3 separate regions of the Homo sapiens genome follow, and regions 1 and 2 are each linked to region 3. Evidence: fine-mapped expression QTL. A gene starts in region 3. Each other region holds a variant in brackets. All regions are shown on one strand. Distances are from middle to middle.

The links. PIP is the estimated chance that this variant, and not a neighbour inherited with it, causes the effect. A credible set is the group of variants that fine-mapping cannot tell apart.
Region 1: its variant is the best candidate, but not a certain one, in a credible set for the expression of PANX2 in lung (TOPMed, PIP 0.63).
Region 2: its variant is the best candidate, but not a certain one, in a credible set for the expression of PANX2 in nucleus accumbens (GTEx, PIP 0.83).

Annotation. Positions count from the first base shown.
Region 1 is chr22:50,124,155-50,134,132 of GRCh38, forward strand. MOV10L1 (Mov10 like RNA helicase 1) reads left to right here. Exons shown (of 27, transcript NM_018995.3): 11 at 1,238-1,415; 12 at 2,048-2,118; 13 at 4,262-4,353; 14 at 9,853-9,911. Among named protein-coding and RNA genes, the nearest start is that of MOV10L1, 39 kb to the left of the region's middle. The variant G/C (reference allele first, on the strand shown) is at 4,762.
Region 2 is chr22:50,218,686-50,228,663 of GRCh38, forward strand. TUBGCP6 (tubulin gamma complex component 6) reads right to left here. Exons shown (of 25, transcript NM_020461.4): 5 at 9,222-9,343; 6 at 8,314-8,392; 7 at 8,048-8,157; 8 at 7,602-7,693; 9 at 7,365-7,504; 10 at 7,109-7,258; 11 at 5,826-5,907; 12 at 5,647-5,735; 13 at 5,456-5,571; 14 at 3,769-3,907; 15 at 3,343-3,417; 16 at 1,566-3,189; 17 at 1,272-1,330; 18 at 959-1,106; 3 more. Among named protein-coding and RNA genes, the nearest start is that of SELENOO-AS1, 13 kb to the left of the region's middle. RefSeq lists an enhancer at 910-1,552. The variant T/C (reference allele first, on the strand shown) is at 4,755.
Region 3 is chr22:50,164,890-50,174,867 of GRCh38, forward strand. PANX2 (pannexin 2) reads left to right here and starts at 5,842. Exons shown (of 3, transcript NM_052839.4): 1 at 5,842-6,067. The coding sequence starts at 5,842. RefSeq lists enhancers at 799-1,350, 6,675-7,367 and a silencer at 5,016-5,075.

The DNA.
Region 1 (9,978 bases), 41 kb before region 3:
CTTCCTTCTGCTATCTTTGGGTTTAGTTTGTTCTCCTTTGTCTAATTCCTTGCAGTGCTCATGGGAATCAGTGCTCATAGTCACAAATTCCCTCAGCACTGCTTGTGCTGCTCCCATAAGTCTTGCTGTATTGTGTTTTTGTTTTTATTCATCTCCTAAGTATTTTTTAGTTTTTCTTATGGGGTTCTTTTGCTTTAATTCTTATCTTTGCTCTTTTGCACATAACGTTGTTTTTTCTTAGCTGCTTTTAAGATTCTCTCTTTTATCACTGATATTAATAGATTTGGTTTACGATGTGTGGTGGTAGAGATTCTTTTCTTCCTGTTCTTGTGCTTGGGGTTCATTGGGATTCTTGAATATGCGGCCTTGAGTTTTCTTCAGATTTGGAAATTTTCAGCCACCATGTGTTCAGACGCACTTTCTGCCCTCCCACTTTCCAATTCCGGGCAGGCTGCTGTGAGTTTTCCCCCACCTCATGCTGAGGCCCTGGTCTGGCCCCTCAATGGGTTTTGCAGGATGGTGTCTCATGCATTCCTTAGTGCTGAGCTGATGGTCCTGAGTGGGTCCCCTGACCCTCTCCAGACCACTCTGTGCTGCTTGCTCTTCCCAGCGCTCAGCCCCACAGATCAGAGCTCCTCTCCTTAGAAACCATGCAGCATCCCTGGGTCCTCTGTGCTGGGGCCTAGGAGCTCTGTTCAGGCACAGGTGGATCAGTCATGGGGCCCCCATGGATTGTTTCCCCAGTCTTGGGATCACAATCCTTTGCTACGTGATGTTCATTGTTTAAACACCATCGTTTCTTATTTCTCTGTCTCTTTAAGTTTTTTTCAGGTAGAAGGGTAAATCTGGTCCTTGTTAGTCCACCTTGGCCAGACCTGGAAGTTTGTCCTTTTTTCACAGATGTCTGTGGAAGCCAAATTCTGCCTTCCCAGAATTAACGTGGACAACCTGAAAAAGAGCAGGGAGGGTGGACAGGAGTGGGCAGTGCAGGGAGGGACACCGCCAGCTGGAGCCCCACTGCCTCATGCCAAAGGCCAGGGAGTGTGCTGGAGCCCCATGGCCCTCGTGCTGAAGGCCGGGGAACTTACTGAGGCACCTGCAGACTCCGGCGAGGATCGCCCCACCTGGGGGGCCATCTGCTGAACTGGAGCTGTTGGAACTTTCCTGCTCCGGAGCTGCTACTTTCCAGAGTGCTGCTGAGCTGTTGCTGACTTTATAACATTTGGGTGTTTTCCAGCTTCTGAACATGTCAAATTACAAGGAGAAGTTTTCGACTTTGCTGTGGCTTGAGGAGATTTATGCAGAAATGGAACTGAAAGAGTATAACATGAGCGGGATCATCTTAAGAAGGAATGGGGATCTGCTGGTTCTGGAGGTCCCAGGGTTGGCCGAAGGGAGGCCTTCTCTCTACGCAGGTGTGTTTGTTACTCATATGCTTCCCTGGGTGGACTAGCAGAGAAACCATACTTGAGAGAAGATACTCTTTAACTGGCAATATGACAGTCACATTATCGCATTTTCTTTCTTTTGGGTTAGAATTTCACTAAAAATCAGCAACCGATGTACATCAAGCATGTTTCTTTGTTGTATTTCATTAGTTGTAAGCAGTTGACCCCAGTAATGTTTTTGTTTGTTTGTTTGTTTGTTTTTTGAGGTGGAGTCTCGCTGTGTCGCCCAGGCTGGAGTGCAGTGGCGCAATCTCAGCTCATTGCAACCTCTGCCTCCCGGGTTCACGCCGTTCTCCTGCCTTAGCCTCCCGAGTAGCTGGAACTACAGGCGCCCGCCACCACACCCGGCTGATTTTTTTTTTTGTATTTTTAGTAGAGATGAGGTTTCGCCGTGTTAGCCAGGATGGTCTCGATCCCCTGACCTTGTGATCCGCCCGCCTCGGCCTCTCAAAGTGCTGGGATTACAGGCATGAGCCACTGCACCCAGCCTGACCCCAGTAACGTTTTATTGAACCTCCTCAGTGTTGGATTTTATAGGACAGCACAGAAATTTGTGATTTTGTGTTAGCTTTAAACATGGTAATATATTTTTTAACTAGGTGATAAACTGATTTTAAAAACTCAAGAGTACAATGGACATGCCATCGAATACATCAGCTACGTGACTGAGGTGAGAGCACTCTCTCTTAATGAGTTTGTGTTAGACACACCCTTCTGACCGGTTGGAAAGGTAACGTTCTCCCCACGGCTCTTGGGGAGATGCTCCCATATGCATTGGCTATTTTGGAAAATGTCAAGATACAGTGAATCTTTAAATAATTTTTGATGCATAAAGGAAACTTAATACTATAATTTTCAACCATGTAAAACATATTTATCTTTTAGGTTATATGTAAGTCATGAGGTTTGCGTTGAGTTGTATTTGGGCATTCTGAATGTATTCCAGAAGAGCTCGCAGAGTGGAGGCCTTGAAAGGAAAAATACACCTATGAGTTTGCAGCTCTGATGTTTGCGTGAAGGTGGTTTTTTTGGCTTTGAGTAGATCCTGGTGCTCCAGATGGTTCTGCATGGGGTGGTCTGTGACTCTTGGGCTGGACTTTACTGGTCATGTACTGGTCATAGCACTGGGAGTGATACTGGGATCTGCATGAGAAGGGAGGTGCTCTATCTGTGCATCAGAGAAGATGAAGCCACACATTACTTAATGTAGAAAACTTGAAGGGAGAATGCCAGAGCCTTTACTGTCAGAAGGAAGAAGGGCTGAGAGAACTAGAAGAGCCTGATAAGGATCTGGAGAAGAGGCAGCTTCCGACCTTTGATGCCACAGTCACTCTGCGCTACACCTTCATGCAGGGTCCATGCTGTGGCTGATTTCACAGAGTGGGATATTTCCCAGAAGACAACATCTTGGCAGGATTTCAGAGATTTTGTAATGAATTAGGCCATCGCCTGTGGACTGAGATGTGAGACACGAGTGACATGACCTCGCCAGCTCTCCATTACCCACCTTTGCTGTTGACCAAGTTGACATGAGGAGCCCAAGATGGCCGAATGACCATCTTAGCCTCCTAGACCAGCTGTGCCAAGAAAGGAAGCTTTGCATACCAAAACCTCCAAAGAAGCAGAGCCAGAGATCTCAGGAGGAAGGCACCTGCCTGCCTCCACCCCTGGTTCCTGAGCCATATGGCCGGGCCTCCATGCCATTGATCAAACCCTGGCATCTGAAATGACCTTCCGTATCCTTTTTAGCTCCAAAAATTATTTTCATCTTTTCAGGCTTTCTTGGATGCCACCTGCACCTGTTCTCAAGTAGACTAACGCATGTCTCCTGTGTATAGTCAGGACTTGGTCTGTCTTCCTCATCCTCAGGGGAAACAATCCCATGGCCCTGTACCACTGTTGCTTCCCTTCCTCCCGGAGCTGGAAGCCATCCCAGGGCGTAGCTTCCCGACTCTCTGCTGGTGTCAGCCCTGACCCTCAGGAAACTCACCCTACCAGGGTGTTGCCTGAGTCACCTGGAGAAGAGCTTGAGCTCCTTTTCAGATCAGGGCTTTCCTTCTTATTTTTCTACCCATACTGTCTAGGAAAGAATATGCAGAACTGATCATGCAGGATCTTGCTTTAGCTGGAGGGCTTTTCTACTAAAAGGATAAGTCTTGTAATGACTGTTTTTTTTGTTTTTTTTTTTGAGATGGATTCTCACTCTGTCACCCAGCCTGGAGTACAGTGGTACGATCTTGGCTCACTGCAACCTCCGCTTCCCAGGTTCAAGAGATTCTCCTGCCTCAGCCTCCCAAGTAGCTGGGATTACAGGTGCCCAGCACCACGCCTGGGTCCTTTTTCTATTTTTAGTGGAGATGGTTTCGCCCCGTTGGCCAGGCTGGTCTCAAACTCCTGACCTCAAGGTGATCCGCCCACCTTGGCCTCCCAAAGTGCTGGGATTACAGGTGTGAGCCACCGCACCCAGCAGACCTTCTTATCGAGGCTTCCTTACAGTAGGTAACACTTGGCTACCCTTGTGGTTGTTTTGTTTGTGTCCTATGGAGTCAGTGACCTCCCACACATTCTCTATTCTCAGAGCCTTAGGAGAGGCTACAGCCAAGTGAATAGAAGTTCAGTAAGTATGAGTGTGTAGTGATCCATTTCCTCTTGTTTGTATAATCGAATGGCGTAATGATTTAATCCTTTTCAACTAATTTTGCAGATATCAAATTTTAGCTCAGAGCTATAGAATGAATTTTTGATGATGTGTCGCTAGATAAAGATATCACATTATTTCAAGAAATCAGGTATATTGTTTGTTCCTTTTTTAGATTCATGAAGAAGATGTAACTCTTAAAATTAATCCAGAATTTGAACAAGCCTATAACTTTGAACCTATGGATGTGGAATTTACATATAATAGGTAATGCTTTTAGTGAGTCTTCTTTCAAATGTCTTTTTTTTTTTTTTTTTTTTTTGAGACTGGGTCTCATTCTGTTGCCCAGGCTGGATTTCAGTGGCGCAATCTCGGCTCACTGCAACCTCCGCCTCCCAGGTTCAAGCGATTCTCCTGCCTCGGCCTCCCAAGTAGCTGGGACTACAGGTGCCTGCCACCACGCCTGGCTAATTTTTGTATTTTTAGTAGAGGCAGTGTTTCACCATATTGGCCAGTCTGGTCTTGAACTCCTGACCTTGTGATACGCTTGCCTTGGCCTCCCAAAGTGCTGGGATTACAGGCGTGAGTCACCACGCCCGGCCATCTTTTTTTTTTTTTAATAGAGATGGGGTCCCAGGCTGGTCATAAACTCCTAGGCTCAAGCGATCCTCCTGC[G/C]TCAGCCTCCCAAAGTTTTGGGAGTATAGGTATGAGGCACCATGCCCAGTTAATTTGTCTCTTTATCTTTAATTGGACAGTGTTCTCTTGAGTATGTCTGTTGACATCTAAGTAGTGACGTAGGAGCCCCCACCATGCCTGTGGTTGACGTGTATAGGCCTTGTGGATGGAAGTGGGCTCCTACAGCATTTTTGCATACCCCGTGTTTCTAGCTTTATTATCAACTATTTTTTGAGATATAAAGGTGCATACATTTGCATGTGTATTCTTTCCCAGATCTCATGTGCACCGGATCTTTGGTTCATGCCTCACTGTCACCGTCAGCTACCAGCTCCTTACTTTTATTTGTTTTCTTGTCGGATGAGGGGTGCTGTGACCTGGCACCCAGCTGGCTTTTTCTTCCTCCACAAAACCATTAACTAGTCATGCACAAAAAATGTATTCTTCAGTTTTAATTCTTTTGAACTTTAGAAAAGGAGTAACTTGCTGTATTTGGTTCCTAGGAGTCGAGATTTTCACTAAACATTGTGTTCCTGAGATGTCTCCGTGTTGTTGTAACTGCTGTTCATTGGTTTGCGGTTGTGTGAATACCCGCTGTTTTTCTGTTGATGGACATCTTCATTGTTTGCTGTTACGATTGTTTGCTGCTGTTCCTAGAGCTGCTGTGTATGTAGGGATGGGATTGCTGGGTTTGGGGTTTTTCCAGCTTTACAAGTGGTTGCATCAGTGACTTTCAGTATCCATGTGTATAACAGCCTGCTGATCGGTGCCCTTTCTGTAATCTGATTTTGTTCGACTTCCTAATTGGTGCCAGTCTGGTAGGTGTGTAATGCATCTCATGATGGTCTTGATTTACTTTTCTCTGACTTATTTACAAGGCTGAGAATCTTCTTGTTCGTGGGCCGTAAAATGTTCCTCTTCCATGAAATGCTTGCTTGCGTCTTTTGCCCTCTTTTTTATTGAGTAATTTATCCAATTTTCATTGTTGTGGGAGTCCTTTCTGTATTCCTTATGATAAACTATTCTTAGGTACATATCTTCTCCAGATTTCTTCCTTATCTTTTAGCTTTTTAAAAAGTATCTTTTGAGGCTGGGTGTGATGTAATCCCTAACACTTTGGGAGGCCAAGGCAGGTGGATCTCTTGAGGTCAGGAGTTCGAGACCAGCCTGGCCAACATGGGGAAACACTGTCTCTACTAAAAATACAAAACTTAGTGGGCATGATGGCACATGCCTGCAGTCCCAGCTACTTGGGAGGCTGAGGCAGGAGAATTGCTTGAACCCAGGAGGCGGAGGTTGCGGTGAGCTGAGATCATACTACTGCACTCCAGCCTGAGACAGAGCGAGACTCTGTCTCAAAAAATAAATAAATAAATAAATTTTATATATATATGTCTTTTTATTAACAGAAGGTGCTAGTTTTAATATAGTCAAATTTATCAAATTTTTTTTAATATTAGTGCTTTTTATGTCTGTCTGAGAAATCGGCAGTATTTGGGCTACAGCCAGATTGGAATGTATTGAGAATGAATGAATGGACTACGGGGGAATGGAGAAATGTCGTTGATTCCTTTTTAAGGCATTTGCCGATGAAAGCAGGGAGGGCAGGATGGAGAGAGAGCGAGAGAAATTGGTGACCAAAGAGATACAGGAGGACCAGGAGGGGGGTACTTTTTGTTTGCTGTGCAAGATGAGAGACCCCAGCATGTGAGTGCCATGAGAAGACCCAGGAATGGGAAGGAAGGGGCAGCTGTGTTGGATGATGACGTGTGAGGGTTGGCTGGGACCACAGGGAGCAGCAGCGCTGGTAGAAGGCACACAGCCTCCATCATGGCAGCTAGAGAGACTGCAGCCGACGTCCAGGCCTGGACTCCTTGACCTGCTTTGACTCTGGAACAGAGCTGATTCTTGTAGTGTGAAGGGATATCTCGTTGTGGATTTAATTTGTATTTTTCTAATGACTAATGATGCTGAACATCTTTTCTTTTTTCTTTTTTTTGAGACGGAGTCTCGTTCTGTTACCCAGGCTGGAGTGCAGTGGCACGATCTCGGCTCACTGCAAGCTCTGCCTTCCAGGTTCACACCATTCTCCTGCCTCAGTCTCCCGAGTAGCTGGGACTACAGGTGCCCACCACCACGCCCGGCTAATTTTTTTTTTTTTTTTTTTGTATTTTTAGTGAGACGGGGTTTCACTGTGTTAGCCAGAATGGTCTCAATCTCCTGACCTTGTGATCTGCCCACCTTGGCCTCCCAAAGTGCTGGGATTACAGGTGTGGGCCACCACACCCGGCCACTGAACATCTTTTTATGTGCTTTTTTGCCATTTGTACAAAATACTTGTTGAAGTCCTTCCTCAAGTCTTTGGGCCCATTTTAAAAAATTGTTTTCTCATGATTGAGTTTGCAGAGATGTTTGTATAGTTTCAGTACAGTGCTTTATCAGATACGTGTCTGTGCAAATATTTCCTCAGACTACAGCTTGTATTTTCATTGTTTTTATAGTGCCTTTTGAAATGCAGAAATTATTAATTTTGGTGAAGTCCAGTTTATGAATGTTTTCTTTCACAGATCTTTTAATGATGCATCTCAGAAATCTGTAACTAATTTGGATCTCAACGATTTTATCCTGTTTAGAAACTTGGCAGCTTTATCCTGTACATTTAGGATTATGATCTATCTCATTAAGCTTTGCAAATTGTTTGTGGGGTATGAATGGAAATTGGAGGGTGGAATGAACATCCAGTTGTCCAAGCATTATTTGATGAAAAAACTGCCCTTTCTCCAATGAATTACTATTGTACCTTTGTGAAAAAAAAAAAAAGAAAATCAGTTGACCAAATATTTGTTGATCTGTTTCTGAAGACTCTCTGTTGTGTTCCATTGTACACTTGTCTGTCTTGACACCAACATTACAGGGTCTTATTGTCTGTCTTAGTACACTCAGGCTGCATTAGCATAGCACCATAGATGGGGTGGCTTATAAACAACAGAAATGTATTTCTCATGCTCTGGAGGTCAGGAAGCCCAAGGTCAAGGCACCAGCAGGTTCAGTGTCCTGGTGAGACTGCTTCCTGGTTCGTAGGCGGCTGTCTTTTCCCTGTGTCCTCACGCAGCAGAAGGGATGGGAGAGCTCTCTGTGCTCCCTTGTGTAAGGGCACTAATTCCATTCATGAGGCCCCACCCTCATGACCTAATCACTTGCCAAAGGCCTCAACTCCTCATACCCAGTAACATCACATTGGGGATGAAGTTTCACCATACGAAGCTGGGGGGAACACAAACCTAGTGTATGATATGTGCCTTTATGATAAGTCTCAAAATCAGGTAGTATCAAGCCTCCAACTTTGTTCCTTTTCAAGGTTGTCTGGCTGTTCCAGGTCTTTCTTCTTACATGGATTTTAGGTCATGTCAGTCTCTACAGAAAGCCTGTTGGGATTTTGATTGGGATTACATTGAACCTATGGGTCGGTTTAAGGGAGAATTGGAGAATTGAAATCTTAATAATAATAAGTCCTCCAGCCCTTGAAAAGGGTATGTCTCTCCATTTATTTGCATCTGTTTTCATTTCTTTTAGCAATATTTTATACTTTTCAGTGTATAGGTCTTATAGATCTTTTGTCAGTTATACCTATTTAAAATTTTTAAATGGCTGTTATAAACAGTAAATTTAACTTAAATTTCTAATTGCTTGTTTCTAGTATTTATAAAAAGCAATTGATTTTTGTATGTTTACCTTGTATCCTGCAAGTCTCCTAAACTGAATAGCTCCAGTAGCTTCTCCTAGAGTCTGTAGAATTTTCTACATATATAATCATTGATTCAAAGAATGACAGTTTTAGGTTGGGTGTGGTGGTTCACACCTGTAATCCCAGCACTGTGGGAGGCCAAGGCAGGCGGATCACCTGAGGTCAGGAGTTTGAGACCAGTCTAGCCCACATGGGGAAACCCCATCTCTACTAAAAATACAAATAATCAGCCGGGCGTGGTAGTGGTCACCTGTAATCCCAGCTACTTGGGAGGCTGAGGCAGGAGAATTGCTTGAACCCAGGAGGCGGAGGTTGCAGTGAGCCGAGATCACGCTACTCATTCCAGCCTGGGCGACAGAGCAAGCCTCCGTCTGAAAAAAAAAAAACCAAAGACAGTTTTACTTCTTCTTCTCTTATTTGGATGCTGTGTATTTGTTTTCCTTGCCTTCCTGCGCTGGTTGGAACTTGTGTGCCAGTGTGGAATAGAAGTGGTGGCAAGTGCTGCACTGGCTTTGTCCCTGGTCTTAGGGGCAGGGCTGTCAGTCCTGAGCGAGTTAGTACAGCGTGGGTGGTAGGTTCCGTAGTGGCCCTCTATCAGGTTGAGGAGATAGATTCTTATTTTAGTGAGTTTTTAATCAAGAATGGATATGGGGCCAAGTGTGGTGGCTTACACCTGTAATCCCAGCACTTTGAGAGGCTGAGGTGGGAGGATCACATGGGCCCAGGAATTTGAGGCTTCAGTGAGCTCTGACTGTGCCACTGCACTCCAGCCTAGGCAACAGAGCAGAGTCTCTAAAAAAAAAAAAAAAAAGAAAGAAAGAATGGGTGTGGGATTTTGTCCCATGCTTTTTTTTTTGGCTTCTTTGGTATTCTCTAGTGGTTTTTACAAAAATTTTTTTAGACAGAGTCTCACTCTGTCACCCAGGCTGGAGTGCAGTGGTGCCATCTCAGCTTACTGCAACCTCTGCCTCCCAGGTTCAAGTGATTCTCATGCCTCAGCCTCCTGAGTAGCTGGGATTACAGGCGTGCACCACCACTATGCCTGGCTAATTTTTGTATTTTTAGTAGAGGCAGGGTTTCATCATGTTGGCCAGGCTGGTCTCGAACTCCTGACCTCAGGTGATCCACCCACCTCGGCCTCCCAAAGTGCTGGGATTACACACGTGAGCCACCGCGCCCGTCCTCTCTAGTGTTTTTCTGTTCTCTATTTCATTGATTGTTGGATTGTTGCTGTGATTTTTTTATATTGACTTAAAGATTGTATCATAAAATTTTCATTACCTTATGCCAGCCTTAATATTTCTGAATGTAAGGTTAGTTATTTTATGTGGTTTTCTTTCCTGCAGGACCACAAGCAGACGGTGTCACTTTGCACTTGAACACGTCATCCACTTAGGTGTAAAAGGTATTACTTTTATAGAATGATAGTGTTACATCTTCACAGAGTATTTTTATAGGCTTCATGTAAAATT
Region 2 (9,978 bases), 54 kb after region 3:
CCAGGGCTGCTGCTGACCTTGTACCTGAGCTCCAGGCAGCTCAGCACATCCGGGGCGTTGGGGGCAAACACCTCGGGCAGGTACTTGAGAGCGAGGGAGAGGTTGGAGGCGTGCGGGGTGTCCCCATGCAGGCTGCACTGCAGGGCCTTGCTCAGCACAGAGTTCAGCACCAGCGGGTTGAGCAGCTCTCCGGGCGTTTGCCCAGCTCCAAGCTAGGCAGAAAAGGGACCACCGTCCCCAGGAGTCCCAAGCACATGCCTGGCACTCGCCGGCACCCCATGGGGCTGTGCCAGAGCAGCAGGGGGCTGTGGGCGTGCAGCCAGTCTCTCTTTTCCCACGGCCTCCCCTCTACCACTGGCCCCACCCCGTGTCCGGAGGCCACCTTCTCAAAGAGCAGGTCGCTGAGGGACTGGGCGAACTCGCCGTCCTCCATCAGCAGGAAGTGCCGCAGTGCCTCATAGTGCGCCTCCAGGTGCAGCTCCACGAAGAAGTAGTCGACAGCGGCCTTGTTCACCAAGGAGATGCTGGCAGGAGGGAGCTGGAGTCAGGGCGGGCCAGGACGGGCTGGGTGGGCAGACTGGCGCAGGGGCAGGGGCACTCACTGGGCGGCCAGCGGTGCCGTGATGGAGCGCTTCATGAGCACGGGCAGCGTCAGCAACTCGCTCAGCTGCACAGCAGTCTCATCAGCGGCAGACTGGACCTGGGGGTCCACGGGGAAGGCGAAGGCCCGGGGAAGCACGGGGCGCAAAAGATGAGCAATGGGCGGCTCGGCTGCGGGAGATGGAGCACGCACGTGCTGGGAACCGGCCAGCCCAGGGCTCCGCCCCCATCCACAGGAGATGGAGCACGTGCTGGGAACTGGCTAGCCCAGGGCTCCGCCCCAACCCACAGGAGGTGGAGCACGTGCTGGGAACCAGCCAGCCCAGGGCTCCCTGCCAACAGCAACTGCTGCACTCACACATGGACTCGTAACTGTCCGGGTACCGCTCCAAGTGGTACTGCCCTGCCAGGCCTGCCAGGTAGGCCTGCTCCCCACCCTGAGCCTCCGCCGCCGATGCCTCCGCCTCCTCACCACGGCCTGGGCTGCTCTGGGCAGCTGTGTCTTCCTAACAAAACACCAGCCTCAGAACCACCTCCCCACTGCACGCTGTCCCCACAACCAGCTTGTGCCAAAAAAAGGAAAATCGCATGTGGGACCCACCCGCGTGACAACCTAGAGGGACAGAGCCCTCCCTGCCTGCTGTGGGACCCCCAGGCTGCATCCACCTAACCTGTGAGTTGAGAGGCCAATTTGGAGAGAGGTCCTCAGTGTCCCCGCTCCTCCCAGGGCCTGTGTGGACACAAGTGGACACGAGGGCATCAGGGCCGAGTGCCTGTGGCGGGTACAGAGCCGAGCCGGCCCTGGCTCAAGCAGCCCCTCCCATGTCCCCCACAGCAGCCCAGGTCCTGGCTGACAAGGAGGCCTGAGGGGAACTTCACATGCCACCAACCCCACTGCCCGCCTACCTCCCAGGCTCTGTGCGTCCCACAGTCCCACTCCTGACCACCAGCCACCCTACTCTGACCTAGTTCTTCAGAGACACTGTCTCCCGGGGTGTTGGGCCACCATGGTTGGGTGGGAGCCACGTCTGACACGTTCTCCCCCACGCTGATGCTCCCCTCCCCGCAGCCCGAGCTGGGGGAGGACAGAGATGGCCCCACTTCTACAGGCAGCCGTGGCCCACAGTCCAGCACAGTGCTCTGTGCTCCCAGGCTGAGCGCTGACTGGGACGTGTGGCCAGGGGGGCTCTGTTGGGGCCTGGGTGTGTTGGGCTCAGCTTCTGGTGAGAGAGCCCCCAGCACCATGTGGGGCGGAGGGATGGGTACATGGGTGTTCCACCGTGGCCGGGTGGAAACCACATCCGACACAGGCTCCCCCAAGCTGATGCTGGCGTCGGACACGTGTCCATGGGTGTTGCACCGTGACCGGATGGGAGCCACGTCCGATACGTTCTCCCCAACCCTGATGCTGGTGTCAGACACATGTCCGTGGGTGTTCCACCGTGGCCGGGTGGGAGCCATGTCTGACACAGACTCCCCCAAGCTGATGCTGGCATCAGACACGTGTCCATGGGTGTTCCACCGTGGCCGGGCGGGAGCCATGTCTGACACAGACTCCCCCAAGCTGATGCTGGCATCGGACACGTGTCCATGGGTGTTCCACCGTGGCCGGGTGGGAGCCACGTCCGACACGTTCTCCCCAACCCTGATGCTGGCGTTGGACACGTGCCCGTGGGTATTCCACCGTGGCCTGGTGGGAGCCACATCTGACACATTCTCCCCGACCCTGATGCTGGCGTTGGACACATGTCCATGGATGTTCCACCGTGGCCGAGTGGGAGCCACATCTGACACAGACTCCCCTAAGCTGATGCTGGCATTGGATACGTGTCCGTGGGTGTTCCACCGTGGCTGGGTGGGAGCCACATCTGACACATTCTCCCCGACCCTGATGCTGGCGTCAGACACGTGCCCGTGGGTGTTCCACCGTGGCCGGGTGGGAGCTATTTCAGAAGCGTAGTCCCCTGTGGGAAGACCACCCCCTGACACCTGCCCAAAGAGCCGCTCTGTGGGCTGGCTGCTCCCCTCCTCCAGAGCAGCACGCCTGGGTGGGTGTGAGGGGAGCAGAGTCTCCCGCGAGGCGGAGCCACAGGCATCCATCTTCCCACAACTGTCCTCCCACAGCTGTAGCCCTGAGCTGCCCAAGCTGCACTCTGCAGCCTGCAGGGGCCCTGGTGCAGGTGAGGTGGCCACAGCTGGCCTCAGGACAGTACTAAAGTCGTACTCCTGTGGCCTGGAGGGCTGAGTGCTGGCTGCTGCGGGTGCCTCCCCAGGAGCTGAGGGGGGCAGGTCCAAGTTAATGGTCTGCAGCGCCACCTCCAGGAGAGGGACCATGCCAGTCTGCACGGACGGCTCAGCCCCTGGGCCCACAGGTAGGAAGTCTCCAATGCTGAGGCTGTCAGAGAAGGGTCTGGCCCCCTCCGCCTGCTGCAGCCCCCTGCCACCAGCCCCCACTGCTAGAGGCTTAAGGGGCTGTGGGGTCAGCAGGCCTGGCCTGTTCCAGCCATCCCAGGCAGGCGAGTGTTGCTCTGCAGACCCAGAATCACAGCCTTGGCCTCCCTCTGGGTGCTCAGGGCCCGGAGACGTGACCTGAAACACAGGTGACATCAGACCCAGTCTGGTCTCAGGACCCCCCAGCCCTCGAACTGTCCCCCAAGTTCAGCTCTGCAGCCATGACCAACACCAGGTGCCGAGGGCTATGGGAAAACCATAGGGCACCCTGGGTTCCACTCTGCCGCTTACCTGGGGGTGCACGCTCAAGAGGACGTCTGGCGGCTCCTGGGGCTGGTGAGCCTCAGACACTGCTTTCAGCATCTCCTGAAATTCAAGCCAGAGGGGTGACTGGCCAAGCCGGAGTCAAGCACAGCCCTACCCCACACAAAGCCACAGCCCCTACCGCCCATGGCAGCCATGTGCACTGAACCAGACAAGGCTTGTGCTGGGCTCCAGTGGGACGCTGGGCCTGCAAAAAGTACTCCAAAACCACGAGCTCCTCACCACCTGTATCTGTGCAATTTGGTGGCACACGGGGAGAGAGAGTGCTCTGCCGCAAACGCGAAAGCCACCAGCCCTCTCCTAGAAGAGCATGTAGGTTTGTGTGCAGTCTCAGGGGGTTTCCAGACCCCCAAAGCCCAGGGGAAGAGCTGCCATCTGAAGCCGCAGACATACCTGAATGTGTTTCTCATCTTCTAAGAGAAAACGAAGCCGTGCACTCTCCAGTCGGTGCCTCTGGATTCTCCACAGTGCCTTCTGCTCCCGACGAGCTGCCTCTGCAGAGAGCTTGCTGTAGTGGTCGACCAGTGCCTGCCTGAAGCCACACACCAGAGAGGACACGGCCACAAGAGTCACCCCACCCCATCTACCTGGCACCCCTCAGGCCAGGATGGTTCTCCATAACAGAGGCCCCAGTGGGCCCCCGCCCCCGTCTCCCCCTACCAGGGGCTGATAGCTCTGGGCCCTCACAGCACCTACAGGGCAGCACCAGGCAGGCCCTTCTACCTGCCAGGCTGGGAGACCCTGGTGAGTCAGCGTCCAGCCAGGGCTCAGCAACATCTGCTGGACAAATACCAGAATGAGATCCTGTGTGGCCTGAAGCAAGGGGTGAGCAGGAGGCCGAGGGCCCCAGGCCTCTAAGAAGTTAGGCCTCTTCCCCTTCTACAGGTACAAACCTGAGAACTGAAAACTAATGCAAAAAAGCACATGAAGCAAAACCAACACAAACGCTTTATTTGCTGAATTCAAAGCCTGCTTCACCGATCGTGCCCCATGATTTTGAGCTTCTCACCAGCAGGCAACTGGGCTCAAACCTGGACTGGCCAGCTCTAATTTGGCTGCCACAGGCCAGAGACGTAGTGTCTAGGCCTGGTTTTCTCCATGTGTTAACAGGACAGTATCGACTGACATACATGCATGAACACGTACTCATGCATAAATGCATACACGGACACACGTGCACACAGGCACGCGCACCCCTCCACACACATCCCTCACTCGCTCCATAAAGAGATCTAAGGTTGGGACCTACAGCATCGCGTGGGGCTGAGCAGGAAGCGGCCAGCCCCTCCCGTGAGGGGCTCTCTCCAAAACCCCAAACAGCCCCTTGAAGGATCCAGCACTACTCAGCCTGGGACAGCCTGATGACAGCACAGGACAGG[T/C]TGATAACAGCACAGGGAGACAGACGCAGATGCTGTGCTGGACAAATGCCCTGTCTCAGCCGAGCGCGGTGGCTCGCGCCTGTAATCCCAGCACTTTGGGAGGCCGAGGCAGGTGGATCACCTGAGGTCAGGAGTTTGAGACCAGCCTGGCCAACATGGTTAAACCCCGTCTGTACTAAAAATACAAAAAACTAGCTGGATGTGGTGGCGGATGCCTGTAACCCCAGCTACTCAGGAGGCTGAGGCAGGAGAATTGCTTGAACCTGGGAGGCGGAGGTTACAGTGAGCCGAGATTGTGCCACTGCACTCCAGCCTGGGTGACAGAGCAAGACTCTGTTTCCAAAAAAAAAAAAAAAAAAAAAAACGCCCTGTCTCTGTCAGACCAATAACAGACTTAAAAATAAATAAGGAAGGATGTTCAGAAAGAAGATAAATAAAGAGACAGGACCCCAAACAGTACGCAGGCCTCGCCTGGACCCTAATCCATACAAACCACCACAAGACAACGCGCAGAACAGCTAAGGATGCCTGGATAAGGCAGAACGCCCACAGCCACTCTGGGTTCAGCATATTGGTCTTTCTACCTTAATGTATGTTTGAAGGTTTTCAAAACAAAAAGTAAAATCATCAGTAAGATTAAGCCAGAGCTATGGGGCCCCTGCCGCACTGCACCCCTGGGCCTGGAGCCCGGGCTGCCCTACCTCGCCTTCCTCTCCAGCTCCTCCTCCAGGGACTTCAGCCTTCTCTCCCTGTCTCGGAGTTCACGGGCGTAGCTGAAGTCATCATCCAGCTCCTCCTGCCTGGCCGCCTGGCGTCGCTATAAAACACATAGAGCCTGGCCTGTGAAATCAGAACTGACAGGCGTGACCCCGCAGGGACAGGTCCTACCCACCTCCTGGTCCTTCACAAATTGTTCTTTCAGCCTCTGAAACTGCTCACGCTTCCGGGCATCCAAGGCCATCCGTTCTGACATCTGCCGGTCTACATTGGGACAGTAAGGGGCGCACTGTCACAAGGAGGCCCCAGCAAGGCCCCCCGGAACTGCAGAAGGGAGGACTTGGGGCCACTCACCACTCAGTGCACTCAGGACCCTGGATGCTGCTTCCCGGGCATGAGCGATTAATTCTTGTTTTGCAATTTCCATACGTAATTCCTGAGAAAGACAACTGGTAATCAAAGCATCCTGGCCGGGCGCAGTGGCTCACGCCTGTAATCCTGGCACTTTGGGAGGCCGAGGTGGGTAGATCACATGAGCTTAAGAGTTCAAGACCAGCCTGGACAACATAGCAAAAACCCATCCCTACTAAAAATACAAAAATTAGCCAGGTGTAGTGGCAGGTGCCTGTAGTATCAACTATTTGGCGGGGGTCAGGGGAGCTTAGGCAGGAGGATCCCTTGAGCCTGGGAGGTGGAGGCTGCAGTGAGCCATGTTCGAGCCGCTGCACTCCAGCCTCCTGGCTGACACAGTGAGACCCTGTCTCAAAGAAAAAAAAAGCAACCTAATCCTCTGACCCCTCACCTAGGATGCCCAGGACACCTGTGGACTCAGGGCCGGCAGGGGAGACACATGGTCCAAGGGTTCGAGGAGGGACCAGGTGATGGCAGGACACCGCCCCCCCGCCCACCCTCCCCCACCCCCAGGCTCTCAGCAGTGGCAAGGCTGGTTCCAGGCCATGGACGGGAGCTGACCGGCTCTCACAGAGACATCTGGGGCTGAGGACCCCAAGGCTGTGTGTGCCCACCCTGGAAGGAAACCAAGAGGCCTCAAGAGGGGGCTTCCCCGCTCAGCCTCTTAGGCCTGCCCCTGCCCAAGTATCCCTGCTGCCCACCAGGCACCAGGCCAGAAAGGGTGTTCCTGGGAATGGCACTGATTGTACCACCGAGCCCCTCCCAGAAGACACAGGAGAGGCGTGGCCCGTCCCTGACACACTGTCCCTTCCCAGCAGGAAGGGGGCTTGCAAAGGGCGAAGGCCATCTGGAGTGCAGCCAGGACTGTCTGTCCACAGCTGGCGGGCCCGGGGAGGCCCCAACGGAGTTTCCCACGCCAGCAAAGCCTGGGCTTCAGGCTGAGCCACCCAGACCCAGGAGGAGAAGTCAGAGCCCCTGCCTGGCATCTGGCTCCGGACATTCATCTCAGCTCCCCCTTGGCACCCACCCTTCATCTCAACTCCCCGTTGACACCCACCCTTCATCTCAACTCCCCCTTGGCACCCACCCAGGCCACCGCCAGGACAGAAAATGCCAGAAGGGAGGCCCCCATCTTGCACAGCCCTCATGTCCGCCCCACCAACCTGAGACCCCAGGAAGCAGAGGCAGGGGCGAAGAAAGCCCCCGAGACCTGTGGTGCCACGCACCTTCTCCTCCTTGCTGACAGAGCTGTGGCGGGCCACCCTCTCCATGCGCCCAACGTAGACGGCACAGTCCTTCTCAATCTCCTTCAACTCCTCAAGGGAGAAAATCACCGAGATCCGGGGGACAGGGACGTCGGACCAACAGAGGTAATGCTGCCAAAGGGGATGCAAGCACAGCCACCAGCACTCAGCCCCAGCCTCATACTCAGCCCCAGGGAAGACCGGCCCCTCTCTTCCCCACACATGAGCCCCTCCTCACCCGGGGGCAGCAGAGCTTCAGCAGGTTAATGGTCTTTCCGCAGACGTATATGTCGTGGGCAATGTGCTTCAGAAACACGGGAACACAGTCCTCCACCTCTTTGGAGATGAGCACGTAGCCATGTGTCCAGTACAACTTATCTAAGGTAGGGTGAACACCACGGTGGCCGGCATGGCCATGGCCCTGAACCCAGGCCCACAGGCACGGACCCCTGCCCCGCAATCAGCTGCCACCTACCTCGGAAGCTGAGGTACTCGTGGTTCACCTGAATCATGAACTCGCCATAAGCGTCTCTGAACACCCCGCTGTACACCCAGTCGTGGATGAACCTGCAGTGGGGGAAAAGCAGGGGTAGATGTGGTCAACGGAGAGGTGGGTGGGGCGTGGCTGTCAGTGAGGGGTGGGACAGGGGCGTGGCTGTCAGTGAGGGGCAAGTGGGGGCGTAGCTGTGAGAGGTGGAGTGGGGTGTGGCCATCCATGAGGGGCGGGATGGAGTGGGGGCAGGGTGGGGGGTGTGGAGTGGGGGCAGGGTGGGGGGTTGGGGGCTCCTGCCCAGTCCACCTATCCTGCCCTCCCCTTCCTGTGTGACCCCCACATTCAGCAGGTGTCTGACAAGGGACCGCTCTCAAGTGTCTGCCTGGTGGGAGTGCGCGCCCGCCGCGCCTGCCCAGCCCACTGCCCACCGGGTGTAGGGCTCGCAGCTGGTCTTCAGCAGGGACAGCAGTACAGGGTAGTGCTCGTTGCTGCAGTTGTGCAGAGCCTCCTGGTAGAGGTAGGACAGCAGCTTCACGCCCTGCAGACCGCAAAGGGGGTGGGGGGCAGCTCAGCGCACCCAGCGCTGGGAGTGAGGCGCAGCCCTGCCGGCAGCAGCCCTCCAGGGACACGCTCAGCCACCCCCGTTTCCTGGAGCCCACCAGGCTGACACACTCGGCAGGGACGCACAACTCACGGTGGGAAACGCGGCCCTGGGGCCTCCTCCACAGGTGCCCGGGAGCACAGCGCCAACGCCACAGAGCTCGGCCAGGTACCTAGACCCAGAGGCAGGATGAGACCAGGTGACCGGGCTCAGGGTTCCCAGGCCTGGATCAGATCGTGAGCAAAGTCTCCACGTATCTTTATGCTCCCTGGGGCAACTAACTTTAGATGCAGGCTTTAAAAACCACAGGCACCCCAACCACCCAGAAACGGGCTCCCTGCAGGACTCGTGTGCAGCCCTGTGCCCCTGCGCTGTCCACACACACCCCACTGAAGTACCCACACCCAGCAGGCCCTCCCTCCCAGGATCTGGCCAACACACGAATCACCCTGATCCTCCCACTTCTGGGGGCTGCACCTGAGAGCCCCTCCCATCCACACAGTGGTACCAAGCATCTGCCACAACTCGCACCCTTCACAGCCCAGCTCCCCTGCCCCACAGTGTCTCAGCCCTTGGGTCTCCTCAGCGCTGCCACACTCTGCTCCTCAGCCTGGAAGGTCGCCTCTCCCACTGCTCCCAATGCCCAGCTCCTCACTCTTCCTTCTCTGATGGCACCTGCCAATAGCCCCCGAGCCTGGTTGCTCACTAACCAGCTTGTGTGTACCGGACGCCACATCTCCAGGGACCCTGTGTGCCAATTAGGCAGGAGCCACCGGACCTGGAGGGCCTGGATGGGGCCAGCTGTGGTGGGCCCACGGCAGACACACCCGCTCAGCACCGGGCACCTGGTGAACTCGGCCGGCCAAGGGCCATCCGGTCGCCTGCTGAGGGCTGTTCTCACAGGCCCTCCTTGCCAGGGAGCAGGGCAAACCCTCCACCACCCAGCAAGCCCCACACCGCTCCCGCAAAGTCCCCTGCTCAGCCGCCATGCTGAGGCTCACCTGAGCTGCCGGCCAAGTTTCTTGAAGAGAAAACCAATGGTGAGGAGGCTCAGGGTGGGCGGAGTGGAAAGGACGCAGGCCCGGTAATACTGCAGGTACCTCCTCAGGCCACTGGTGAAGGCCTGTGGGCAAAGAGGCTGGGAGGAGGGCGGCCAGGCACATGGACGCAGCCGTGCCCAGGGCCTGAGGGGCACCAGTGCTGGGAACAGCGCTTTGTTTCTTGCCTCAGCTCTGGGCTCCATTTCCAAGCAATGGGCCTCTGTGAGCCACACCCCGCCACCGGGCCAGGTGGAAATGCGGCCCATCCACAAGAAGCCAGAAGCTGTGGCCCACCACCAACCCTTCCTCTCATCTGAGCCCAGCTGCCCCAGGGGCGCCCACCACCAACCCTTCCTCTCATCTGAGCCCAGCTGCCCCAGGGGCGCCCACCACCAACCCTTCCTCTCATCTGAGCCCAGCTGCCCCAGGGGCATGGCAAAGGGGCTGGGGGGGAAATGGCGGCCGTGCTCTGTGCACAGACACTAGTGCTGTGAGGGCTGCAGCTGCTCCGACCACAGCTGTCTCAGTGGCACCAGCATCCTGGGCAACGCCACAGCAGCAGGCCCTGCAGGTCACACTAAGACAGGGGCACCCTGGACCAATCTCAGTCCACCCACCCCAGGAGCCGCCTGGCTATGCCTGCCAGATGAACAAGAACCACAGTCCAGCCCTTCTCAGCGTCCCCTGCTCTGACCCCTTCTCCACCATCTCTAGCTCT
Region 3 (9,978 bases):
GGCAGTGGTGCAATCTTGGCTCACTGCAACCTCCGCCTCCTGGATTCAAGCGATTCCCCTGCCTCAGCCTCCTGAGTAGCTGGGATTACAGGCATATGCCACCATGCCTGGCTAATTTTTGTATTTTTAGTCGAGACGTGGTTTCATCATGTTGGCCAGGCTGGTCTTGAACTCCTGACCTCAAGTGATCTGCCCACCTCAGCCTCCCAAAGTGCTGGGATTATAGGCGTGAGCCACCACACCTGGCCAGAAATGCATTATTATCCGTATGGGGCTTATTTGCAAATAGTTAATGTCATCATGGGAAGATATTACTTAGGGCGGAAATGAGACAGGTTGTCAGTTTTTTTTCCTGTTTTTCATCTTCATGGATATAGAAGCTCAGAAAGCTTGTTCGCTTAAAGAGAGAGATGGGAATACAAGCTTTGCACAGCACGCATCGTCTTCAAGATCCTTCCATGTGTTGAAATCTCATGTTAATGTATCACCAAGAGAAAGAAGCAGCTGCTCCCATAATACGGGATTTGGGAAGACTGTCCTCCAGTCTGGGCCACTGGAGTGTGAAGACCGCAGGGGTGGACCCTTCACTCCTGCCACACATCCTCCTGAGGAGGGTAACAGGCTGGGCGGCCAGGGTGTCATCATGGACCTTTGCTCACCGTTCCACTCACCGGGAATGAGGATGGCAGCCAAGTTGCCGAGTTTTGAGTCCAGGCCCTGGCTCTGCCACAGGCGTTCTTCTTGTCAAGCTCCCACCGCTTCCTCTGCGAGACAGTGACTGGCCAGTGGTGCTCAACAGGCAGGCAAGATCACACCCACTCATAACCATCGTTGTTCACTGAAAAGGTGCTGTGGCCCAGATGCTGCCCCAGGCAGGGGCGTAACATGCAAAACAAATGCAGTAGGTGCAGTGGCCCAAGCCTGCAGTCCCAGCGTGGCTCACGCCTGCAATCCCAGCATGGTCCACGTCTCCAGTCCCAGCGTGGCCCAAGCCTGCAATCCCAGCGTGGCCCACGCCTGCAATCCCAGCATGGCTCCTGCAATCCCAGCATGGCCCACGTCTCCAATCCCAGCGTGGCTCAAGCCTGCAATCCCAGCGTGGCCCACGCCTGCAATCCCAGCGTGGCTCACGCCTGCAATCCCAGCGTGGCTCAAGCCTGCAATCCCAGCGTGGCCCACGTCTCCAATCCCAGCGTGGCTCAAGCCTGCAATCCCAGCGTGGCCCACGTCTCCAATCCCAGCGTGGCTCAAGCCTGCAATCCCAGCGTGGCCCACGCCTGCAATCCCAGCGTGGCTCAAGCCTGCAATCCCAGCGTGGCCCACGTCTCCAATCCCAGCGTGGCTCAAGCCTGCAATCCCAGCGTGGCCCACATCTCCAATCCCAGCGTGGCCCACGTCTCCGATCCCAGCGTGGCTCAAGCCTGCAATCCCAGCGTGGCTCAAGCCTGCAATCCCAGCGTGGCCCACGCCTGCAATCCCAGCGTGGCTCACGCCTGCAGTCCCAGCGTGGCCCACGCCTGCAGTCCCAGCGTGGCCCACGCCTGCAGTCCCAGCGTGGCCCACATCTCCAGTCCCAGCGTGGCTCAAGCCTGCAATCCCAGCGTGGCCCACGTCTCCAGTCCCAGCGTGGCCCACGTCTCCAATCCCAGCGTGGCCCACGTCTCCAATCCCAGCGTGGCCCACGTCTCCAATCCCAGCGTGGCTCAAGCCTGCAATCCCAGCGTGGCTCACACCTGCAATCCCAGCGTGGCTCACGCCTGCAATCCCAGCGTGGCTCACGCCTGCAATCCCAGCGTGGCTCACGCCTGCAATCCCAGCATGGCTCATGCCTGCAGTCCCAGCGTGGCTCACACCTGTAATCCCATGCCTGCAATCCCAGCACTGTGGGAGGCCAAGGCTGGGTTGGGTGGGGGTGGGGGGATCAGGAGTTTGAGACCATCCTGGGCAATATAGTGAGACCCCGTTTCTACAGATAAAAAAATTTTAAGGCCAGGTGCAGTGGCTTATGCCTGTAATCCCAACACTTTGGGAGGCTGAGGCAGGAGGATCACTTGAGCCCAGGAATTCGAGACCAACCTAGGCAACATGGCGAAACCCCATCTCTCAAAAAAATTAGCCAGGTGTGGTGGTGCATGTCTGCAGTCCCAGCTACTCAGGAGGCTGAGGTGGGAGGATCCCTTGAGCCCAGGAGATGGAGGATGCAGTAAGCCAAGATCCCACCGCTGCACTCCAGGTTGGGCAACAGAGTGAGACCTTGTCTCAAAAGATAATAGTAAAAATTGCTGGGTGTGGTGGCTCATGCCTGTAATCCCAGCACTTTGGGAGGCTGAGGTGGGCAGATCATGAGGTCAGGAGATCGAGACCATCCTGGCTAACACGGTGAAACCCCGTCTCTACTAAAAACAAAATACAAAAAATTAGCTGGGCGTGGTGGCAGGTGCCTGTAGTCCCAGCTACTTGGGAGGCTGAGGCAGGAGAATTGTGTGAACCCGGGGGGTGGAGCTTGCAGTGAGCCGAGATCGCGCCACTGCACTCCAGCCTGGGCAACAGAGCAAGACTCTGTCTCAAAAAAATAATAATAATAGTAACAATTTTAAAAAGCTGGGCATGGTGGCGTGCATCTATAATGCCAGCTACTTGGGGGGTCAAGGTGGGGGGATTGCTTGAGCCCAGGAGTTCAGGGTTACAGTGAGCTCTGACCAGTGATGCAGTGCTCAGGGTTTGAAGAGAGCGTGCACACAAACCGCTAGAGATAAACTCAAAGCACCTGGAAGCTACACCCGCCCCCCCTTCCCCCCGAGAATGGCAGATACTAGAAGGTGGATAGGGCTGAGAGCTGGAAAGAAGACAGGGATGGTGAGAGCATGGACTGGCCGAGCACTTCTGGAAAGCATGGAGAGGCACCCATGCGAAAGCAGAAAGTGCATCTGGAAAACAAAGGCAGCCACCCAGCAGCCACACTCGGGTCGCTCGGAGGGGCTGGAACTCACTGCACTGGGTTATCTGGGAGTGACTGAGTTGTCGGGGAGGGGGGGTGACTTGGTTATGTGAGGGGTGGCTGGGTTCTCTGGGGTGATGGTTATCTGGGGGTGACTGGGTTATACGGGATGGGTTATCTGAGGGGTGCCTCGGTTATCTAGGAGATGACTGGTTTATCTGGTTACCTGAAGGGTGACTTGGTTATTTGGGGATGATGATTTTATCTGGGATGACTGAGTTATCTGGGGGTGACTGAGTTATCGGGTGAATAGGTTATGTGAGAGGTGACTGGGTTATTTGGGGTGACTGGTTTATCTGGCAGTGACTGGGTTATCTGGGGTGAATAGGTTATGTGAGGGGTGCCCGGGTTATTTGGGGTGATTGGTTTATCTGGCAGTGACTGGGTTATCTGGGGTGAATAGGTTATGTGAGGGGTGCCCGGGTTATTTGGGGTGATTGTTTATCTGGCAGTGACTGGGTTATCTGGGGTGAAAGGTTATGTGAGAGGTGACTGGGTTATTTGGGAGGTGACTGGTTTATCTGGCAGTGACTGGGTTATCTGGGTTGAATAGGTTATGTGAGAGGTGACTGGGTTATTTGGGAGGTGACTGGTTTATCTGGCAGTGACTGGGTTATCTGGGGTGAATAGGTTATGTGAGAGGTGACTGGGTTATTTGGGAGGTGACTGGTTTATCTGGCAGTGACTGAGTTATCGGGTGAATAGGTTATGTGAGAGGTGACCGGGTTATTTGGGAGGTGACTGGTTTATCTGGCAGTGACTGGGTTATCTGGGGTGAATAGATTATGTGAGGGGTGCCCGGGTTATTTGGGGTGATTGGTTTATCTGGCAGTGACTGGGTTATCTGGGGTGAATAGGTTATGTGAGGGGTGCCCGGGTTATTTGGGAGGTGACTGGTTTATCTGGCAGTGACTGGGTTATCTGGGGTGAATAGATTATGTGAGGGGTGCCTGGGTTATTTGGGGTGATTGGTTTATCTGGCAGTGACTGGGTTATCTGGGGTGAATAGGTTATGTGAGAGGTGACTGGGTTATTTGGGAGGTGACTGGTTTATCTGGCAGTGACTGGGTTATCTGGTAGGGGTGACTGTTATCGGGGGGTGAGTTGGTTTATCTGGGGTGCCTGGGTTGTCAGGGTGACTGGGTTATCTGCCAGGGCTGATTTATCTGGAGGTGCCTGGGTTATTTGGGGTGACTGGGTTTATCTGGGGTGACTGGGTGGTTGGGTGCTGGGATTGGATGTAGCTGAACTGCCTGCCTCAGGATGAAGTTTGCTGGAAGTCAGGGGCTGGCATCCCTCAGAAAACATGCAAGGATCTTTAAAAACGCAGACGGCGTGAAAGCTCAAAGCAGACACATCCCCTACGCAGCCCAGGGAGGCAGGGGGACCTCCTGGTTTGCTCACAGCAGTGGCCGGGCCTGTGAACACGGGCTCAAAATACATTTTTGGAATGAATTATTGAATGAACTTAAAACTCCAATCACACTAAATCTTTTATATGAAAGATCGTGCACGTTCGTCCTGGTATAGTGGGAAGGGGACCTGCACGAGGGAAAACGGCTGCCTCGAAGAGGCAGGGACCACGCGGGATGCGCCCGCGTCTGAAGCCAGACCCCCGGCTCCCCGAGGGAGAACAGGACGGAGGGCGGGGCTGTGGGGAGCGGAGGGAATGAAGGTCAGGGAGGCGGCGGGGACCCCCTGAGCTGGCACAGGCCCCGGGAACGTCTGTGGAACAGGGGACGGGATGGGGCGTGGGGGAAGGAGGTGCGGGCTGCAGGAGCGGGGGTGATGGGGTCACTCACGGCGGCGGGACTGGGGGTACTGGGTGGGGGGGTCGGGTGGGGCCGGGGCTGCAGTGGAGGGTGTGGGGCGGGGAGATGCCCTCATTGCCCGCGCACTGGCGCCCGAGCCCAGAGAAGAGAGCGCCGGCTTCCCCGCCAGTGGCCGCAGCACCCCAGGAGCGCGGGAACCTCCGGACCCACAGCGGGGCGCGGCCGGGGCAGGTGGGGGGCCCAGGCGAGGAAGCCCCCTCTGCGCCCTGGGCTGGGCGAAGGGCCCTGCGATGCGACGGGGGCAGCCCCAGCGCGCGCCCAGTCCTCACGTCGCCACCGAGCGGCGCCCCCGCCCCAGCCCGGAGCCCCGCAGGGCCGCCCCCACCCCTGCCCACCCTCCCGCGGGCCGGGGCAGCCCCCCGCCAGCCACCCCGCGTTCCCAGGAAGAGGGACCGGTCATTACTCATTCATGTCCTTTCATTTCATTTCAATATTTTCTGCAAAGTCATCGCCCGCGCCGCATCTGCGTGGCGGGGGGCGGGGTGGGGCGGAGCCACGCCGCGGAGTCGCCGCAGGTAAACAGCCCCCTCCCCGCGGCGGGAGCGGGGCCGCCGGCCCCAGGCAGGGACAGCAGCCGCCGCCCGCGCTCCGGGCCGGGATCCCGCCGCCGCCCCCGCCGGAGGCACGCGCCAGGGCGGGGGCCGGGCTGCGGCGGAGGCGGGCGGCTCCGGTGCCCCCCGCCGCCGCCCCGGCCCGGCCCGCCCGCCCCCTGACCCCGGGGGCGGCGGCGGAGCGCCCCCCAAACCCCGCTGCGGGCTCCGCGCCCGGCCAGCCCCGCACCCGCCGCGCGCCTCCGGCTACTCCCATCCCCCGGAGCCCCCCGCTCGGTCCCGGCGTCCCCTGCCACCCTCTCCCGCGGCCCGCGGCCCCGTCCCCGTCCCGCGCCCCCACGCTCCCCGATCCCCGCCCCCGCGCCGCGCGTCCCCTCCCGCCCGCGCCCCCCTCGCCGGGCCCCGCCCCGCGCCCCCCGCCCCGCCCGCGCCCCCCGCCGGGCCGCGCCCCCCGCCCCCCATGCACCACCTCCTGGAGCAGTCGGCGGACATGGCGACCGCGCTGCTGGCGGGAGAGAAGCTGCGGGAGCTGATCCTGCCGGGCGCGCAGGACGACAAGGCGGGCGCGCTGGCCGCGCTGCTTCTGCAGCTGAAGCTGGAGCTGCCGTTCGACCGGGTGGTCACCATCGGCACCGTGCTGGTGCCCATCCTGCTGGTCACCCTGGTCTTCACCAAGAACTTCGCAGGTGAGGCCGGCGGCCGGGGCGCGGGGCGCGGGCAGAGGGGGCGTCCGCAGGTGTCCGGGAGCTGGCGCTTCCCGCGTCCCCGGCGGCTCCGTCCAGCCGCGCCCACCGTGGCCTGGCTGCGTCCGCGGCGTCCCAGGCACCTTCCACAGCCGCCCCCATCCTAGCAGGTGTCGCTGGTCGCACAGACCCCTCGTCTCTATTTTATTGTTGTTCTTCCTTCCATTCGTCCGCCCATGGCCGCGGGTGGGACTAGGCCTGTCTGGACCCAGGGGTCCCAAATGTCATGAGACACGGGGTCTGGTTTGGAGAATGTCACAAGCAGCGCCTGAGGGGATGCAGGGTGGCCAGGTGGGGACCAGGAAAGGCCGGGATGGGTGTTGACAGCAGAGAGCTGATTACAGGGGCTGGTGGAGCTGCCGGGCAGGGTTCCCAGGCTGGACTTGGGTGGAAGGAGGGCAGAGAGAGTCTCTGAGAGGCCCAGGCCCTCCACCCCTCAGGCAGGGCGAGGCCTCTCCGGGTGCACTGGGGGCCTCCGAAGGTTTGAAGCAGGGGGGCTAGCATGGGGCAGGGCCACGTGTCAGAGCAGGGAGCCTGGAGCTCCTGCAGGGAGATGGGGGCTGGACCAGGGCAGGGACCCGCGCTGGTTAGATCAGGACCTGTGGGGGCACTTGAAGCCACCCAGGCGAGGCAGGAAGATGGACAGAGCAGCCAGCCTGCCTGTGAGCCTCTGCGGGGTGGGGTCCTGGTGCCTCTGCCCTCCCCAAGGAGTGGGGCGAGACAGGTGGAGCCGAGAACTTCCTCCCCTGGGGTCTGGGCCAAGGCAAGGGGGATCAGGGTCTCCTGGCCTGTGTGGCCCAGAGGTACTAGTCTGCAGCGGGGAGGGGTGTTGGGACCCTGGGGCCCTCTCTTCTGCAGCCTCCAAACCTCAGCAGACCCTGCCTCAGCACTGGCGCTTCCCAAATCTCCCAGATGCCTTGCCTTAAGGAGTCCCCGTGGCCTGGAGACACCAGGCCTGAGGGTGGACATTGGCCAGGCTGTCTGATCCCACCCAGGGGTGGAGGAGGCCTCTGCTGGTCTCCTCTTCGACACTGGAGGCCAGACCCCGGGGATTAGAGGACCCCTGGGGTGGGCACACAGCACACTCTGCAGAGCAGGGAGCCCAGGCGTGCGGTGGGGCCTTGGGGCAGGCCCAGCATGTCCAGACACCACGTGTGTTCTCTGTGTTTGTAGCAACCAAGTACCGCAAACTAGGCAGTTTCAAACAGCAGACATTTATCTCTCATGGTTCCGGAGGCCAAAAGTCCAAAATCGAGGTGTCGGCAGGGCCCTGCTCCCTCCCACAGCTCTAGGAAAGGGACATTCCAGCCTCTTCAGCCTCTGGTGCTGCCGGCAATCCTTGGGCGCCTTGGCTCGTGGCCGTGCCACCAGTCTCTGCCTCTGTCTTCTCATGGGCTTCTTCCCTCCCTGTCTGTGTCCAAATTTCCTTTTTTTTTGAGACAGAGTCTTGGTATGTCGCCCAGGCTGGAGTGCGGTGGTGCGATCTGCAACCTCCACCTCTCGGGCTCAGGTGTTCTTCCTGCCTCAGCCCCGAGCCCCCAGTAGCAGGGACCACAGGCATCCCACACCACACCCAGCTAATTTTTGTGCCATGTTCCCCAGGCTGGTCTCAAACTCCTGGGCTCAAGTGATCCTCCCATCTCAGCTTCCCAAAGTGCTGGGACTACAGGCGTGAGCCACTGTGCCCTTTTCTCTTCTTCACCACCCCCCCGCTTTTTTTATTTTTATTTTTTGAGACAAAGTCTCGCTCTGTCACCCAGGCTGGAGTGCAGTGGTGCGATGTCGGCTCACTGCGACCTTTGCCTCCCGGGTTCAAGCGATTCTCCTGCTTCAGCTTCCCAAGTAGCTGGGACTACAGGCACCCGCCACCACGCCTGGCTCATTTTTTTTTTTTTTTTTTTGAGACAGAGTCTCGCTCTGTCACCCAGGCTGGAGTATAGTGGCGCGATCTCTGCTCACTGCAAGCTTCGCCTCCTGGGTTCACACCATTCTCCTGCCTCAGCCTCCCAAGTAGCTGGGACTACAGGCGCCCGCCACCATGCCCGGCTAATTTTTTGTATTTTTAGTAGAGACGGGGTTTTGCCATGTTGGCCAGGATGGTCTCGATCTCCTGACCTCGTGATCCGCCCACCTTGGCCTCCCAAAGTGCTGGGATTACAGGCGTTGAGCCACCGTGCCTGACCCATTTTTTGTATTTTTAGTAGAGACGGGGTTTTGCCATGTTGGCCAGGCTGGTCTCGATCTCCTGATCTCAGGTGATCCGCCCGCCTCGGCCTCCCAAATTGCTGGGATTACAGGCATGAGCCACCGCACCCGGCCCAACTTTCTTCTTTAAAGCGGAAAGGAAGCGAGCGCTCTGCCCCCGAGCACCCTCCCAGGAGCCTATGGGCTGGTTCCTCTTTTTGGCTTCATCATCCTTGGAGGGCCGAGCGCAGCCCCTGATGCCGCAGGGCAGGGTTGGGCCTGAGGGCCCGTGTGGCCAGCTGCTGTCTCAGGATGCAGTACCCTCGAAGGTTGGGGGCCAAGTCCCAGGGTCTCCAAGGTGGGCTGGGGAAGGGTCTCGGCCCCCCTCAGCCTGCAGAGAGTGGAGAATGTAGCAGGTGCGCAGCCACCGCCAGGATTAGCTTCCTGTGGCTGCTGGAACAAACCTACAAGTCAGAAGCCAGATGCGAGTCTCATGGGGCTAAAACGAAGGTGTCAGCAGGGCTGGCTCCAAGGGGGAACCCACTTTCTGCCTTCTCCGGCCTCCAGAGGCCTCCACATTCCTGGCCTTGCAGCCCTTCCTGCGTCCTCAGAGCCGGCTGCGTGGCGTTCTCTCTCCCAGCCCCACTTCTGTCCTCACATCTCCTCCCTGACTCTGACCCTCTTAGAAGAACCCTGCAATTGCTGCCCACCAAGACCCCCAGCCTAGGCATGTCTGCAAAGTCCTCGTGAACCGGGAAACGTGACACCGCCACAGGCTCCGGGGTTGGGATGTGGCATCTTTGGGGGCCATGATTCTGCTCACTGCAGACCCCATGTGGAGGTCTGTAAGGCCAGGGGAGTCGGGGAAGGGCCAGGGCCTGGCCTCGGCTGAGGGCTTCCAGGATGTGGCAGTGGTCTGGGGTGACCAGACAGGGTTTGGCCAGCAGGCAGGAGGAGGCTGCGCAGAGCCAGGGGTGTCCTGGAGAGGTGTCCCCACTCCCCAGGTGGGAGGACAGGGGTGGAAAGGGCTGTTGGGAGGGACCCAGCTTCACCCTTGGGGGGCACCTTGGGGCCATGTGCAGGCCAGATCGCAGGGGTGGGCTGGAGATGAGCTTGGGGATGGCAGAACCGAAGAAGGGCAGGACTGGGGGAGGGCCGGGGGGGCTGGGCTTTAGCCTCGGGTCCTGGGGACGGCATTCTGAATATGGGAATATGGGCCGTGTTGGGGTGTATTCAGACACCCGCTCAGAGGTGCTCCAAGCAGCACCAGGCCCCTGGCTGCCAACTCTGATATTGTCACTGGGGCTCTGAGGGCTGGGTGTGGACAGGCTCCTTGGCTGGGAAGCCAGTGTCCTCTCGGGGCATAGCTGGCATGGCCAGGATCCACACAGCAATGTCTTCCAAGAAACGGGCCCCTGGCGGCGGCTCTGTCTGCCCTGTTGGATGGGCCAGGCCTTCCTGCCTTCCGTTTGGACACCTGCACTGGCCCAGGCAGGGTCCCACTGTCCCTGGGAAGTCCCAGAGGAGGGCCTCGGACAGAGGACCCGTAGCAGTCGCTGCGTGTGGGATGGGCCCGTGGATTTGGGCTCAGCAGCCCCTCTCTGCTGCCCCACCCCGAGTCAGGCCAGCACCCCCGGCCCTGGCAGCCCCTGCTAGAAGCTGTGGCAGCA